2 separate regions of the Homo sapiens genome follow, and region 1 is linked to region 2. Evidence: fine-mapped expression QTL. Tissue or cell type: whole blood. Region 2 holds a variant in brackets; the other region holds the start of a gene. All regions are shown on one strand. Distances are from middle to middle.

What was found. PIP is the estimated chance that this variant, and not a neighbour inherited with it, causes the effect.
Region 1: FBXW2 starts here. The variant in region 2 is fine-mapped to the expression of FBXW2 in whole blood (TOPMed, PIP 0.93).

The regions. Positions count from the first base shown.
Region 1 is chr9:120,788,250-120,796,421 of GRCh38, reverse strand. It overlaps FBXW2 (F-box and WD repeat domain containing 2), which reads left to right and starts at 3,006. Exons shown (of 8, transcript NM_012164.4): 1 at 3,006-3,068; 2 at 3,165-3,273; 3 at 8,144-8,172. The coding sequence starts at 8,164. B3GALT9 (beta-1,3-galactosyltransferase 9) reads right to left here and starts at 2,955. Exons shown (of 3, transcript NM_001386823.1): 1 at 2,500-2,955. RefSeq lists enhancers at 1,993-2,082, 2,513-2,612, 2,675-3,305.
Region 2 is chr9:120,687,051-120,695,252 of GRCh38, reverse strand. The region is part of intron 1 of MEGF9 (multiple EGF like domains 9); the gene reads left to right. Among named protein-coding and RNA genes, the nearest start is that of MEGF9, 23 kb to the left of the region's middle. RefSeq lists an enhancer at 1,704-2,514. The variant C/G (reference allele first, on the strand shown) is at 3,157.

The DNA.
Region 1 (8,172 bases), 100 kb before region 2:
TGCATAGGAGAGTGGGTGCTGATCATGTTACAGCTAGAGTGAATCCAGAACAAAGAACAGACAAAGCAAACCTCTTCAAATGCTTCCAACCCTGTGTACTTCATGAAACTGACCCCATGTCTTTATGCTGAGTTCCTGGTAAAGTGTGTGTGGAAGTTCAAAGAACAGTTACCCAGATCACTTCTCCATAGCATCATTGCACAAGTAGATATATCCTATACTTTTTTTTGGAGTGCATCTCAAGAAACCAAACAGCTGGAGTAATGCCTGCTCCCTGGTACATACACATGCAAAAACTGTACTAGACATAGAGGAAGATTTTTCATCCCTAGTGGGTGCATTATTTTCTCCCAAAGAAACATCATATGGTGAGGTCTGGTGTATGGCTCATTGGGAAGGATTCAGAATCCCTAGTATTGGCTATGCAAGCACTTTACTAAATCAATTTTAAGTCATCTAAACTACCTCCCCAGGCAAGTTTAGCTCAAAATGGAAGACAACATACAGTCCACTTTAGCCGGAATTGAAGAAACTAAACATTTGATGTTTTCTCCTTTCCTGGAGTATGCATGTGTAGGAATTATCCCAAACATCATTTCTACCAGCAAGTTTATTTCGAGAAAAGAAACAACATTCAGCATATTTTCATGTTCCTGTCACACAAGCAATTATACTGAGCATTCTTTTCTCATGCCAGGCTATATTTCGTCCTTTCCTTCAACATCCAACATGTTGATCTTCCTATCTGCCATTTACAACAGCTTTTGTAATTATTTGGCCAGGAATAACTTCTTATATTTAAAGTTGGCTATGTTTTCTCAGCAACCATCATACAATCTTGAAAATCTTTACAAAGTGGGAAAAATCTAACCTAAAAATATCAAATGAAAGGGAATTTTTACATATTCTGAATTTAACAATTCAATAGGTCTTGTATTTAATTAAATATTACGTCCACTTTGCAATTTAAAAATTTTTTTATAGTCATGAATTTTGCTCCTGGATCCCCTCTGGGCTTAAATTTGCACAATTTGGTTTCTTTGTTATGAGAGGTCCAAACAATATTATCTCTGGGGCAGCTCCATCTGGACTTTTCAATTTGATTCATCAAACTGTACTGGGGTTGAGAATGTTTGCTCCAAAGAGATATGGGTGCTTGATTTTCTTGATTACCCTGGTACTGCCTTCCCTTTCATAGAGAGTATCCAATCTGTATATCTGTCTTCCTAAATGTCTTATAATGCTGTGATCAGTCACGTTCTGACTTAGAAGTCTAGAGTGACATCCTGTTGCTTAGCAAATCAAATTTGCTCTCTTGAGACCTTACTTTTAGGACACCGTAGTTGACTTCCACCCCACATAATCAATTTTTATTTCCCATGTTTCAAGTACCCTAAATGAAGTCAGGATGCTTGGAACCTTGGCCATGCTCTACCATCTACTGGATATGTGTCTCTCTTATTGTCTATATTATTGGACTGTGCTATCAAGCATGGTAGCCATTAGCCTCATGTGGCTATTAAATTAAAATTAAATAAAATTAAGAATTTAGTTCATTTACATCAGGTACTTTTCAAATGTTCAGTAGCCACAAGAGACTAGTGACTGCCTTATTGGACAGCACCAACAGAACAACTCCATCACTGGCAAAAAGCTTATTGGACAGTGTTGGTATAAGATGTATGTGAATGTGCGTGTATGCATGTATGGCTTAGGAACCCTTACAGAGAAACAAGGATAACTTGTGCGCTGGGCATTGTGGTTCACCCCTGTAATCCCAGCACTTTTTGGGAGGCCCAGGCAGGTGGATCACTTGAGCCTAGGAGTTCAAGACCAGCCTGGGTAACATAGCGAAACCCTGACTCTACAAAAATACACACACACACACACACACACACACACACACACACACACAACTAGCTGGGCATGGTGACACGCGCCTGTGGTCCCTTCTACTCAGGAGGCTGAGGTGGGAGGATCGCTTGAGCCTGGAGAAGTCGAGGCTGCAGTGAGCCAAGATCGTGTCACTGTACTCCAGCCTGGGCGACAGAGTGATACGTTGCCTCAAAAAAAAAAAAAGGATAACTTGTGCTCTGAAGTCGGTTTGGGTTGAAATCCTATGACAGCCATTTACTATGACCTTAGGCAAGATGCCTAAACCTCTTTTGATTTCAGTTTCCCCATCTCTAAAAAGGGGCCTAATAATAGTTACTAGCTTGTGGGGTTGTTGTGGGAACTGAGTGAGATGGTACACAAAAAATGTTGAGAAAGAGTGCGTGGGATTTTTTAGCTCAGTTTTAGTTCTTGACGCCAAAAGGTTTGCATGCTTCATTTCCTTCAATCCTCAGAGCCTTCGGATGGGGACCTCACTATAATTGCTATGCAGATGAAGCAAAGTCTGAGAGGTTAAGTAACCGGGCCACAGCCAGAGTGTAAACGTTGTGATTCATTCAAATCTACATCACTTGACTGTCTCTTTTCATTCAACAACCTCCTTACCTTGCTTTATTTTTCTCCTTTGCACGAGCCTTAGTTTATCTGTCTTCCTCCTCCTAATAGATGTAAGGCCCAGGCGGTCAGGGGCTTTTGCGTTTTTTGTTCACTAACCCTATCCCCTAGAACAGCGTTCGGGATAAAGAGGTGCCCAACAGGTTGTATGAATTTGGACACGTCTCTTAACTTCTCTAAGCCACAGCTCCCTCTCCTCCGTAAAATGAGGATAATAAGAAAAACTACTGCAGAGCTGGTGCAAGATCAGATTGGAGGAGGGACATAAGCGCGCTGTGCAAACCTGGATGTACGGTACGAAAGGAACCTCCGTTCTAGGTTGCACCCAGCCTAAGCACCGTGAGGGCCGCGCGGCACGCGTTCAGCTTCCCGGGACGCTCTTCTCCCCACCCCTACTCCCGGCCTCCAGCCTCCCACCACCCACCTCCGGGCGGGGACCGGAAGTGCAGCCGCTTCCGCCGGGAGCCGCGGAGCTGAGGGACGCGCGGAGATGACGCAGGCAGCACCGGAAGCCGCTCCCCTGTGAGGCTGCGGACCGGGAGCAGCGGCCGCAGGTCCGGGTCTGTATGCGAGGCGGGGCCGGTCGGGGAGGGGACTCTTAGGCGCCCGCGGCTCTGCTGACCCGCCGCGCCTTGGCTGTTTTTCTTTCCCTGCAGGCGCCATGGCTGCGGAGCGGACCCGGCCGCTGCAAGGCTCTGGCGGTCCGAGCGTGCCTAGTAGCTGTGAACCCGGCGCGAGGTCCCGGGCCCCGGGGCGCTCGCTCAGGTCAGTGCCGCGCGGAACACGATTCCGAGAGCAAGGGACCTGGGAGCAACGAATGGGTTGATGGGATCTGGATTTTAGAGACGGGAAAACAGGGTTTTGGAGTTACTGCCTCCTACTGCCTCCATTTCCTTAGCTGCGAAATGAGTTAACAGTGATGTCCCAGGGCTACCAAACGTTTGAAAGACGATGAAGTGTGATGAGGTGGTTTATGAAGTACAAAGCGCTATACTGCGCCATAATTGTGGGTATGCCATGAAAACAGGTGTGTATGTGGGGTGCTGCTTGAAGTAAAGCAAAGATAACAATATTAATGCTAAGTAATAATGGTAACTGACATTTACTGTAGGCTTACAGCGTGCCGAGTACTGTGCTAAACGCTTTACTTGCACTGTCTTGTTTAACCCTCATAAAAACCCTTGTAGGTAATGCTCTTGGCTGTATTTTACAAGTGAGGAAACAGGGCATGAGACAGGTGAAGTGATTTGCCCAAGGTCACCCAGCAACAAGTGGAGTTGCAGAACACATATTTTATAAACATTATTTGTATTCTTTCAAAGCTTTAAAAAAATTCACCTTAAAACTAAAGGCTATTTTTTGATAGTATATTATACTTAACATGGTTTTCAGTTTTAAAAGGTATACAATAAAAAGGGACCCCTCATTCCTATTCTGCAGCTCTCCAGTTCTCTCTGGAGGCAACCAGGGTTATCAGTTTCTTGAATATTCAGAATACATTTTATGCATATGTAAGTTTATAGGTGTGTATACATTTTCAGCGCCTCTGTGCTCTTTGTTTGATAAGAAAAGGGGGAAATGAAGCCTCCTTCCCTCTACCACTAACAATTATGTTGCTTTCACTCTTGACTAGGCCAGGTTCTGATAGAGGAGGAGGGGAAAACACATTTACACTGTTTTCCAGAAGGTCCTGTCTCTAATACCTCTGAGTATAGGTTTTGGGAGAATGGGTACTGGGCAAAATATTGAGCCTGCTACTTCCTGTGCCATTCTGGGAAGGCCACTCCACTTCTTGAGCCGTAAATTTCCTCATTAATGTTAGTTAAGGGCGGCATTACTGATACCTTCCATGAGGTTATGAAGATGAAATGAGATAATGTTTACCAGTGGTACTTTTTCTTTAAAACCAATATAAATATGTGAGTTGCCTAGGTAACATAGGGAGTTAATGGCAGAACCTGAGACCAAACCCAGGCTCTCATTTTCCAATTTAGGAGTCTTTTTGTTGCATGACCCACTTTGTGATTATTGATACTGAAGGCAAGAGGGCAAGTTGAATGTTAACTCTGGGGTAGGGACGTAGGGTAAGGGGGCCAAACAGCAGGGAATGTGGGTAGAATAAGGCACCTACTGGGAAACTAGAGCCTCCAATAAACAGGTGCTCTTCTTTATAAAATTAAACCCCTAGTAAGTTTGAGCCCTTGAGTTTTTCTTCCAGGTATTTTGAAGAGAAACTTAGTGATAAGATGATAGGGTCAAAAGAGATGTTAGTGGTCATGTCCATTCCACCCTTAGTGTCACAGAAATCTTTACTGCCAGGTGTTCATAGTAGTAAAACTAACAAAAAGTACCATTTGAGTTTTTACCCGCTAGACTGTACACTGTGCTAAGCATGTCCCTGCTATATTTCTGAGTTTCACCCTTCAAGTTGGATGATGGCTTCCATTTTACAGATGATAAAACTGAAGCTTAAAAGTTAGTTGGACATGCCCATAATCACATAGGAAGTGGCTGAATCAGTAAAACATCTGGCCAACCTCCAAAGTATTTTCATTTATCACATTCTGCCTCTGTGTCCAACTGTCCTTGACTGTTCGTGGTAATGGGAAACTCACTACTCTGGAGGTAGCTATTCCATTGTTGGAAAGCGCTGAGATTTAAAAGCTCCTCATGTTGAATTGAAATCCCATTTCCTGAGGTTTGTGCAACCAGTGTATGATATTTCTAGAGGCTGCCTAAAAGAGTCCAGTTTAGACCTGTTACCTTAGAAGGCCCCCTCCAAAGTTAGTTGATCTGTTCAGAAAAGTAAAAATTGGTGTTTTTTAAATAGTGCATTCTGCAGTTAGTGAGACTTGCTTTTTTAGGGAAAAAAATGCCTTTTTCAGAATAATCAGAGGTGAACTGCTCAATCTTACAAGGGATTGAGTGGTTTAAAAGGCAATCTAAGAGTTGGGAAAATTTTTTTTATTAAGAGTTAGGAGAATATATAAATCTGAGACATGGCTGAATTTTTTTAGATGTGCTCTCTGAAAAAGCTTCTTCCGTAATCTTTAGCGGTGTCATGGGCACATTAATTTGGCATTTTTTTTTTAAATTTAAGTTCTAGGGTACATGTGCACAACGTGCAGGTTTGTTACATAGGTATACATGTGAATTTGGCATATTATAGTATGTCTCTTAGATATTTGTGAATGATGGGAACCTGATAATATTTTAATGAGTATTCTAAATTTGCCTTGTAGCCGTTTGAATAACAGTTCAGCTCACTTAAATACAAGCATTTCTACAATAGATGTGTGTCAGCATGTGTATGTATGTGTGTATATATGTATGTGTAGATGTGATGGAGGAAGCTTGCCACACCACACTTTTCACTGTTAAAAATGTTTCAGGAGCAGGTGTGTGGTTTTTTTTCTTTTTTTTCTTTTTTGAGATGGAGTCTTGCTCTCTCGCCCCGGCTGGAGTGCAGTGGCGTGATCTCGGCTCACTGCAAGCTCCGCCTCCTGGGTTCACGCCATTCTCCTGCCTCAGCCTCCCGACTAGCTGGGACTACAGGCACCCACCACCATGCCAGGGGAATTTTTTGTATTTTTAGTAGAGATGGGGTTTCACTGTGTTAGCCAGGATGATCTCGATCTCCTGACCTCGTGATCCGGCCGAGCCCACCTCAGTCTCACAAAGTGCTGTGATTACAGGCGTGAGCCACTGTGCCCAGCCTGGTGTGTGTTTTTAATTGACCAGTATTAATTAACTAGCTATTGTGACAATATGCAGATGCCCACAGAAGATAATTGCTTTGTCTTGTTGCAAATTATTATTTTTTAGAAGTAGAGATTTTGAAGAAATGTTGTATAGATAAGAGGGTTGTTAGGATTTAGAGGAAGGAGGGGGCTTGTTATTGCGTGATAAGTCGATAAAACTTTTAGCCATCTGATTATTTTTTGTCAGCTAGGTAAATTTTTAATACAGATTAATAAATCTTCTCTAGCCCAAACTTTGGCTTGAAACGTATTATCTTGAAGTCTAGTCACAGTTCCAGAAATCAAAACTGTTAGCAGATGATGTGATTGCAAGGTTTGGTTGCTTCTACTAATAAATCAGATTGCTTATTTGTCTAAGAATGTTATTGCCAAATTTGATATTGGACACTTACAATTTTACTCACCTTACATTATCAAAGTTGAAAGATGAGATCTTGCTTTTTGTGTAGACCTGATCTAGGTGATATGTCTGGAAAGAAATTAACTTTCCTTTTTCACATTAATTTGGACATATGTTTTTAAAATTAATATGACAGTCTTGTGAGAAACTGAGTATTCAGAAGGAAAGTTTTTATTAAACCATGGAAATATTTAAATATATGGAAATAAAGAGAATAATAAATCCCTATGTACACATCACCCAGCATTAACATCTATCAACACATAGTCTTGAGAAAGATAGTTTTTACTGGTTATATTTTTTGTAATCTTTCATTAGTCTAATCCTCATTAAGAGTGAATTAACACCTGTTGACACTAATACAGGATACTTTAAAAAAAATTATTTGTTACAGTTAGCTCAGGAGCAATTTGTCATTCTCCTAAAGGAGAAAATGGTCTAACGGGTAGACACACTACCTCCAGATCTTACCACTTGGTCGTGGTTCTCCTGGTTGTCACTTATTTTAGAGAGAGAGCTTGGTACCTGATCTTGAGAGCACTGGCGTCCAGTCTGTTCTGTGGCTATTTAGTAGCCCTGTGAATATAGGCAAATCACATACCTTCTCTAACCTGTAGTTTCCTCATTTGCAAAGTGAAGATGATAATGTCTATTTTCTGGTGTTTTATAAACATCAGGATTATTAATTTGCTTTATTTGTGCAGGCCTCCAGGACCCCTCATGGCTCTCGGGGGCACGTGGTTAAGAGTTGTCACTAGCTCATATGAGGTTTAGAAAAACAGACTAAAGCCACATAAGTTCTTTTATAATTCATGTTCTAAACAGGCAGTGCCATAAAGAAGTTGGAAGAACCAGAATTCCTGAGGCAGATAACTTACCACACCTGCTTTTCTTCCCTAAACCTTTTCATCTGAACATCTGTTGCAAAACCAAGTAGTCAGTTCTATGATTTTGGTGACAGGTTGTGCCTGCCATGACAATCAGTGTCTCAGGTTACTGCTCAGGAGACTGTTTCTGATTGTCACATCCTGGTGCTTGCTTTTGTGATTTTAGTACCCAAATAGAATGTATTAAGGAATTCATTAAGGAAATTGTTTTATAATGGTTTTGATGGGGGAAGGGTGTATTGTAAAATATACTGTTTTATAATGAATTGTTGGTAAATCTATTACTATGAAGATGCATGTAGCACGTGCTAGACTTCAAGAGGAATAAGTCACACACGCCAGTCTGTTTCACTGACATGTTTTGGATTCATGATTTGTTAAAGTATGTTTTCTCAAATGTGTTTTCTTTTGTGTGCATGGAAAGTGTTCAGATAAATATGGTGTATTAACTGTAAAGTTGTAATGTAACTACGCATAAAGTTGTAATGGCAGATTTTTTACACTAATTTTTAATACTTCATTTGTTAGCAGTCTTGCTTGAACAGTCTTTTTGAGCAGAACTAATACAATATTTTGATGTGCCACAGGTAAATTTTTCCATAACCTTATGGAGAGA
Region 2 (8,202 bases):
TTTTCTCAAGTAGCCTATAGGCTGTGTCTTATTGATGTTGGCACTCCCTAACATGTACATAGGATAGTGTTCAGCATGTAGTAAATACTAAATAAATCATTGAACAGCATTGGTGCATAAATTGTCCCTATTCACCACCAGCACTAGAATGTAAGGTCCATAAGAGGCAGGGGTTTTTGTCTTTGTCTCTCTCTCTCTCTCTTTTTTTTTTTTTTTAAACCACTATATGGCCAGCACCTAGATTAATTCCTAGCATGTGGTAGGTCTGTGGTAAATATTTGTTAAATAAGTGAATACCCCTAAATAGTAAATTATCTCTGGGAGTGATGCTGTCAAAAAGGCCTTTGAATGTGAATGGGAAATTCAAAGCACCATATTATAATATACAACTAGACCACAAACAGTGAGGACAGAAACTGCCTTATTCATCTTTGGTTACCTCTTCTTCCTATCTAGAAACATAACCAGAAAAGGGCAATTTGAAATTTTTTCCTAGACCTACCATGATAGTCACTAGCCACAAAAATTGCCTGAAGTACCTACCATACCTGCTAAACATGAAACTTTCTTTTTGGCCTCCTTTTGTGTATAACCAGCTGTATCATGAGATTGCATCTACTCTGGGAAGAAAAGGCTGTTGGGCAAACTGTCTTGTACTTATGTTTAAAAAAGTAGAATAACCTAGGGCAGTAGAATCTCACTTTGAAGAAATGAAGAAGTGGAGGCCCATAATTATGAAATGATTCGTATAAATGTAAAACACTTAGAATTCCTGGCATAAATTGGCCTTCTAAATATTAGCTGTACTTTTTATTGCATATTGAAAACTTAGTCCTTCGGACTTTTTACTTCACTGCTTCCAATCCTTTTAAATTCTTCATTACCTCTAATCCTCTCAATTCTGTTGATAAGCAGTGTTACCCAACTTTACAAATAAAGAACCTGAATCTAAGATGAGGTTAAGTTGTTTGCCCAAAGGTCACAGCCAAGTGCTAGTTAGCTGGGATTCAAACCCAGATCTATCTTATTTCTTAAGCTCTTTCTAGGATGGCAAAATGACATGCTAAATGTAGGTTGAGTTTAATGTGTTCTATTATATCCTTCTAACCACTGTTAGTTGTAATGCATCTTTTGCCCCTGCCACCTTTGCTTCTCTTTTCTGATTTGTAGTCATTATTTTACTGTCCATATCATATATCTGTTTACTACTCTCTTCAGTTTTTCTCCTGATTCTTTGGAGTAGAAAGTATGCATTTTACCCAAAAGAAAAAGTACATCCTCACATACTGCTCTGTCCATTTTACTTTTACCTTTATTTTTTTTTTTTTAGCCTAATTGATTTGTACAGTGGATTGGTTTCCAGAGGAGAAGACTTGGATGTCTGTTATGAGTCAGATGAGTAAAGTTATACATTAGCCAGGATGACATTTAAGGGCTAATAGCCTACATCCCCAAACTAACAGTCATTTTAGCCAGTGTAAAACATGAAACACAAGTTGGTCAGAAATAGAGACAATAGCAAATAATGGTATTGAGTTGCTACAAATGCTTTGCAACCTAGTAATGTACTTTTATATGTATCAATTATTTTTAACTTGTGAATAATACTGAAAAATTCCAAATGGATTCCAGACATTTATTGCCAACAAAAATGTTTACTTAAACTTGCTGTTTTAGAGAATTATTTTTCTTAGCATATGGTCTTTCTTGTTAATAGCAAGCCTTTTAACAGTTTATCAGAATGTAAGCATTTCTCTTTGCTATACTTCTTTTAGTTGATGATCTTGTGTAATAGAGCACTCATTTAGAAATACACACACTTAAAATCTGTGATTAAATGGTCTTCAGGGACTAAAGCCACAAGCAGCAGGATGCTGTTGCTTTCTGTTTCCTTATTGCTTAACCAATCTGCAATGGTATCATCCTCTTTTTCCTTTTTCTTCTTCTTCTTCTTCTTCTTTTTTTTTTTTTTTTTTTGGTTAACCAGACAAAATTTCAAATCCTCTTTATTTTTTCTTGCCATGCTCAAATTGGTCTTTAACAGTGCTTCACTAAGATGCTTCTGTTTGACTTTACATTCACTTTTATTTAAGTAACAAAGAAAAGGGTGTGCTTTTGTCAATAAGTTTACACTGGGCTTTCTGTTATACAAAATAAGGTTCTTTTACATTCATCAGATCTTTGTTAATCACCCACTGTGCACCTAGCTGGGCTAGATAGATACTGGAAAGACAAATAAGACCTGGTTTCTGTCATTGAGAACATAGCGAAGGATATGGAAAATTAGACTACAGAATGGTAAGTTCTATCATAGTGGTATGTACTACAGAAGCAAAGAGAGGACTCCTTACCCAGACTTTTAGGGGATGAAGGACAATGTCAGGAAAGGCTTTCTGTGGGATGTTTTCTCTCAGTGGAGTCTTGAGAACAAATAGGAATTATTCAGGTAGAAGAGGGGAAGGACACTCTAGGAAAAGGGAGCAGCAGCCTGTTGAAAAAGTACAGAAGTAAGAGAGCACATACATGGCCCATTTAGGGAACTGAAGTCCTGAGTGGCTCGAGTAGGGGAGGAAAAGGTACATGAAGGTGGAACAGGGAATGAAGAGATTTGTGGCTGGGATGGTCCAAAGTTGTCAAATCATGATGTGCTTTCCATGTCATGCTCAGAAATTGATTCTAAGAGCCATGAAGAAGTATAAGCCAGGAAGTGACATGGTGAGATTTGTGTTTGGAAAGATCAGTCTAGAAACTGCAACATACTTCTATAAGTGTAAATGATCATCAGAGAAGATAATTAGAGGGCACTTACTGTCTCTTTAAATCTTTTCCATCATTAATTTTGGATTAAATGCTAGATAACATAATAATAGAGGGTTTATGAATTAGTTTCCTGTCTTCTGTTATTAAGCAAACATTTGAAACCTATTTTACTTGTTGGTATAACACATAGACTTAGATAATTAAAATTAGAGACTTGACAAAGCTACCAATTGGTGCTGGACCTCTTGATGGATCTGATGTTAGGTTAAACAAACACAAGTGCCTTCTGTATGCCAGGCAGTGTGCTAGGAACTGAAGAGAGAATGGTGAATGACTTAGGCATTCACAATCTAGTGGAGAGACAGATTCATACACAAATGCAAGTGCTCTAGAATA[C/G]TTATGTATTAGATTCCTTAATGTACATTTTCACTTTCAGTCCTTACCTTAAACTTAAATATGGATGAGGAAACCGAAGATAAGAAGTATTTAACTTACTCAAGATCATGTAATAATGAGTGGTACATAGCCACAATTCAGTATTCGAAGTACCTAACTCAATTTATTCCGTACCATATTATACTGCTTCTCTTGACAAGGCAATGCATATGTACTTTTGAGCCTGAAGTAGTTTTCTTCCTCTCTTTTCTTAATTCTTTCTAATGCTACCCAAACCGGTAATGTTCAGCCTTGAAGTATCCAGTCATTGTTGGTTAAAAGTGCAGGCTCTGAAGTCAGATTGTCTGGATTCCAATCCCAGCTCCATCACTTACTCCCTGTCTGTCAGCCTACATCATAGAATTATGAGATGATGTTGGTAAAGCACTTAAAACAGTGAAAGCACAGGGAAAGAATTCAATTGATGTTACTTAAAATTGTCATTGGAATAGCAATTCATCTACTTTCCAAACATTCAGGAAATTTTGATAAAATGCGTTTAAACTATCCAACTTTATTGAAGTTAATCTTGGTGAAGAGCTTTTGCCTAGTGTGCATATTTGAAATCTGACTTCTTGTTCAGGGCATCAGTGGCCTGTGGCAAAGATGCCCCAAAAGTATCTAGGAAAATATGCCTGTGAGAGTAACGTAAAGATACTTAAAAACTTTTGTATTGTGGAAAATTTTGAATATATACCAAAATTAACAGAGTAGGGTTATGACCTTTCTCATATCTCTCACCCACCTGCACAACCAACTATCACTCCATGGCCAGTCCTGCCTCATCCACACCCCTATCCATTTATGTTGCTAGAGCTAAATCTAGAGACTTGATTGATTGATTGATCATTTTTTGAGACAAGTAATGAAAAATGGTGGCTTTTTTTGTTGTTATTTCTGGCATTGTTAAATACCTAGTAACTCAACTGAGGATGAAAACTGGCAACATAAATACTCCTGGAATTGTTTGGATAGGGTAGGATACAGATTATTACCCAGTTTCTACATGTGAAGAAACTATGACTCAAAGAAATGCTTATCAATGGTCATATTAACTGCAAACAACTTGTGCTAAAATGTGTCATTGGAACCATGCTCATTCCATACATATTTATTGAGTTCAATAAAATATTTATATTTCTTTTTAAATGTCTGTGGCCAACATTATTTTTATAACAAGGGCATTTTTATTTTGATTACCTAATTTCTTCTTTTGTTATGTTAGAATTTAAAGTACTTCCCTCCTCCTCTGTCCTATCCTAATTTTTAGCTAGTGGAGTGACTTTAGGGATAATACAGAGGAAATTTTGGTCTCCAGCAGAGGGTCAGTTGCAACTATGAAAACAACTCAGGCAAATGGTCTATTGATAGTGGAACTTTTCATTATAAAAAGTTCTTTTCAAATTCCAGGATATTGGTTGCTTGGTCACTGAAGAGTCTGTACTACCATTCAGTAGCACCCTGGGTGTCTGAGCAGACCTGGTTAGGAATGTACTGCTCATTTTGAATGAAATAAATAAAAAGGATAGAGAAGCTGCCCCAAGCATTGCCAAACATTCTACATCTGATGTATCATTGATACAAAACATTAGTCTTTTAGAGTATACCCTAAAATACAAATAGTTTTCATTTTGAATGTTGCCATCTTTGACTATAGCCACATATCCTTTAATATATACACACACACACACTGACTCCAGGGCATTGATGAAAGTTCATTGCTTTCTTGGTCTCTGGGTGAGTAAAGTTGTTTTAATATGTCAGGTTTGGTTTTGTCAACAAAATACCCCAGTGTACTTACCTTCTTTATTCCCATTCTTTAATTTTTATGTCCTTGGACCTCGTAATTTCCCCAAAGTTTTGTATGCCATTCCCTCAGCAGCAGAAGTAATAGTGCTTGATGAAGTATGACTTTGATATTAGTTTAGTTATATATCTGGAATGTTTATTCCCCTGGGCTTTCCAACTGAGGGAGCCCAGCGTGAACTCCTTCTTTGGAAAATATCTGAGTGGGCAGACCCATTTGCCACATTACCCTCATTGTCTGTCTTTGTTTATTCAGCTGAAAAGCAAGTACTTGCCTCTTACACAGCCAGTCATGAATCTTAGAGTCTCAGAAGCTGTTAAAACGGGTAGAAAAATTGTTATGGGAAGGGAGAGGATGAAAATTGTTATCAGGTATTGACATAATGTGCAAGTAAAGGTGCTGTCTTAGAGAAGAGCATAATGACTTTAGGTGGTTATAAAGCACAACTCTGGCAACATTTTTATGGGCCCAATTTATTAGGGTCTTTGATTTTTATACAATTTTCCTACCTTCTGAGTAAGAGACAATGATAATTCATTGGCACACATGATTCATTTTTACTACAATAGGGGAAAAACTAGGTTTTTAGGATATGAGCCTACCATCTGGTGCACAGGTAATGATAAATATCCTGTGGTCATAATAACATGCACATGCTCTTGGCATTTATTTTTCTGGCTATCTTCATCTCTCAATTGGATTTTTTTTAGCAGGCTGCTAAAAAGTCTCTTTGCATTCATTCTTTCCCTGGTCCATTTTCACACTGTAGCCAGAATTATGTTTCTAAGATGTAGATCTGATTATTCTTCCTCTCTTGTATAAAATTCTTCCATGGCTATCCAGTTGCTCTTAGGAAAGTCCTTCACCTGTCACCACTTCTTACCCCATTCTGTGTCCCAGCCACAATGCACTTTTTCCAGTTCTCTATAGTACTATGCTCTCTTTTGCCTTGATGTTGTTACACATGCTGCTCCTTGCCTTGGGGATACTCCTCTCCTCTACCCTTAGCTTAGCTATACCTCCTCATTCTTCACGTCCATGCTTAGATATTTCTTCCTCTAGAAAGTCTGAATTAGGTGGTTCTCCATGTGCAAACACATGTACCATAATGTTCTATTCATATTTCTGTTTCAATACTTATCACACGATATTGCTTCTTTGTTTTTCTCTCTGCTATAAGACATTAAGCTGTATAAGAACAATGACCACGTCTGTCTTTCTCATTGTTGTATCTCCAGCACCTAGAAATTGTAGTCTGTATTTCTGGCACAACACTAGTTTGTTGATGATTGAACCAGTGATTAATGTGCTTTGCCAGGAATCTTTTCTCTAGAAACCTCAGAGAAGAATTACAGTTCTCTGGTTTTGTGCTCTGCATATTTTTCTATCTTCTATTCATACTAATTCAATTATCAACAGAACATTGCTTTGAACCTTTTAAACCTCTCTACCTTGCCCAGAAGCACGTGTAAAGAACATGTAAAATGAAAAACTCCTGCATATACTTACCATACGCTTCCTATGTCCATCCTATCTAAAATTGCACTCCCACAACACACATGTAGTTACTCTCCACCTCCATCTCCCCTGTCTCCCTTTCCTGCTGTTTTTCCTCCTTAGGATTTAACTACCTTCTAACATACTAAATACTTAACCTATTTAAGTAACTAATTGTGTGTCCATTTCTAAGATGTAAGGTCCATGAGGGCGTTAATTTTGGCCTGTTTTGTTTACTGCCACATCCCTAGCATCTGAAATAATGTTTAGCAGGTATATATGAGGCAATATATATTTGCTGAATGAATGAATATATTCATGCCCTTGGATGTATGTCTTTTTCTTTTTCACTTGATTTTGGTGCACCTGATACAGCCCTGCTGTTAGCACTACTGTTTCTTTTCCTTCCTTATTTTGCAGACTTTACAGTTAGTCCTATTTGGGTCCATAATCTTGGCTACCCCAGGCAGAGATTCTGTTTTTCCATGTTGATTGGCCCAGGTAACCATATCTTCACTTGAATCTGACCTTCAAATCTCCTAACTTGATCTCTGAAGCCCTAAGAGAAGTTGTGTGTGCGTGCGTGTGTGTGTGTGTGTGTGTGTGTGTGTGTGTGTGTGTGTTGCGGAGAGGAGATGATGCATTCAGAGATAAGTCAGATGCAAAACTTGTTCTTTTAAAACCTAGATAGGACAAATAGATGATTATTTCTATAGTACAAGTTTGAGTACGATGATATTTGTTTATGAGAAATGCTAACCAATGGGGAGAAACTTATTCTTCATTTTAAAAAATATGAAATAAGTTTTCTGAAAAGTATAAAAAGTAATATAGTGAACATCCCCTGTATACCTGCCTCCCAGCTTTGTAATATCTGAATTTTCTCCTGTATTTGCTTTGGATTGTTTTCATTTTTGAGATAAAATATTAAATATGATCATAGCCTCCTGGTGTTCTTTTTTTTTTTTTTTATCTCTTTTTCTTTCTTCCCTACCCAGATGTAACCACTATCCTGAATTTGGTGCCATGCATTTAAAAATGTTTACACACACACACACACACACACACACACACACACACACAGTGTTGTGTTCATGTTTCAAATTTTGTATAATGAACTCTTACCATGCTTTTTTTAAACTCACCATTTTATTGAGATTTTTCTATATTGTTCCATGTAATTCTGCTTTATCAAGTTTGCTGTATAGTTTCCTACTGTATGAATAGTCCACAATATCTCATTTTTCTTATTGATAATCATTTGAGCTGATTCTACATTTTTTGCTTTTTCAAGTAATGCTGCAATGAACAACATTGCACATGTTTTCTTCACTTGTAGGTGAGTTTCTCTAGAGCAATACGTCTCAATTAATGTGCATAGGAATCACCTGAGTACCTTATGATACTGCAGGTTCTGATTCAGGTCCTGATTCAGTTGTTCTCAGGTGGGCCTGAGAATCTATATTTCTCACAAGTTCCCAGGTAATGCAGATCCATAGACCATATTTGGAGTTGCAAGGCACTGCTAGGTTCTAGAATATGCACATTCTTCTCTGAAGAGGTTATACAAGTTTATATTTCAACCAGGAATGTATGAGAGATTTGGCTGTTCTAGGAGTAGCCTCTTTTAGATGATTCTATAAATTTTATGTGTAACCATTCTCTCCTTAAAATTAGATATTTTTTTTGGAGGGAAAGCATTA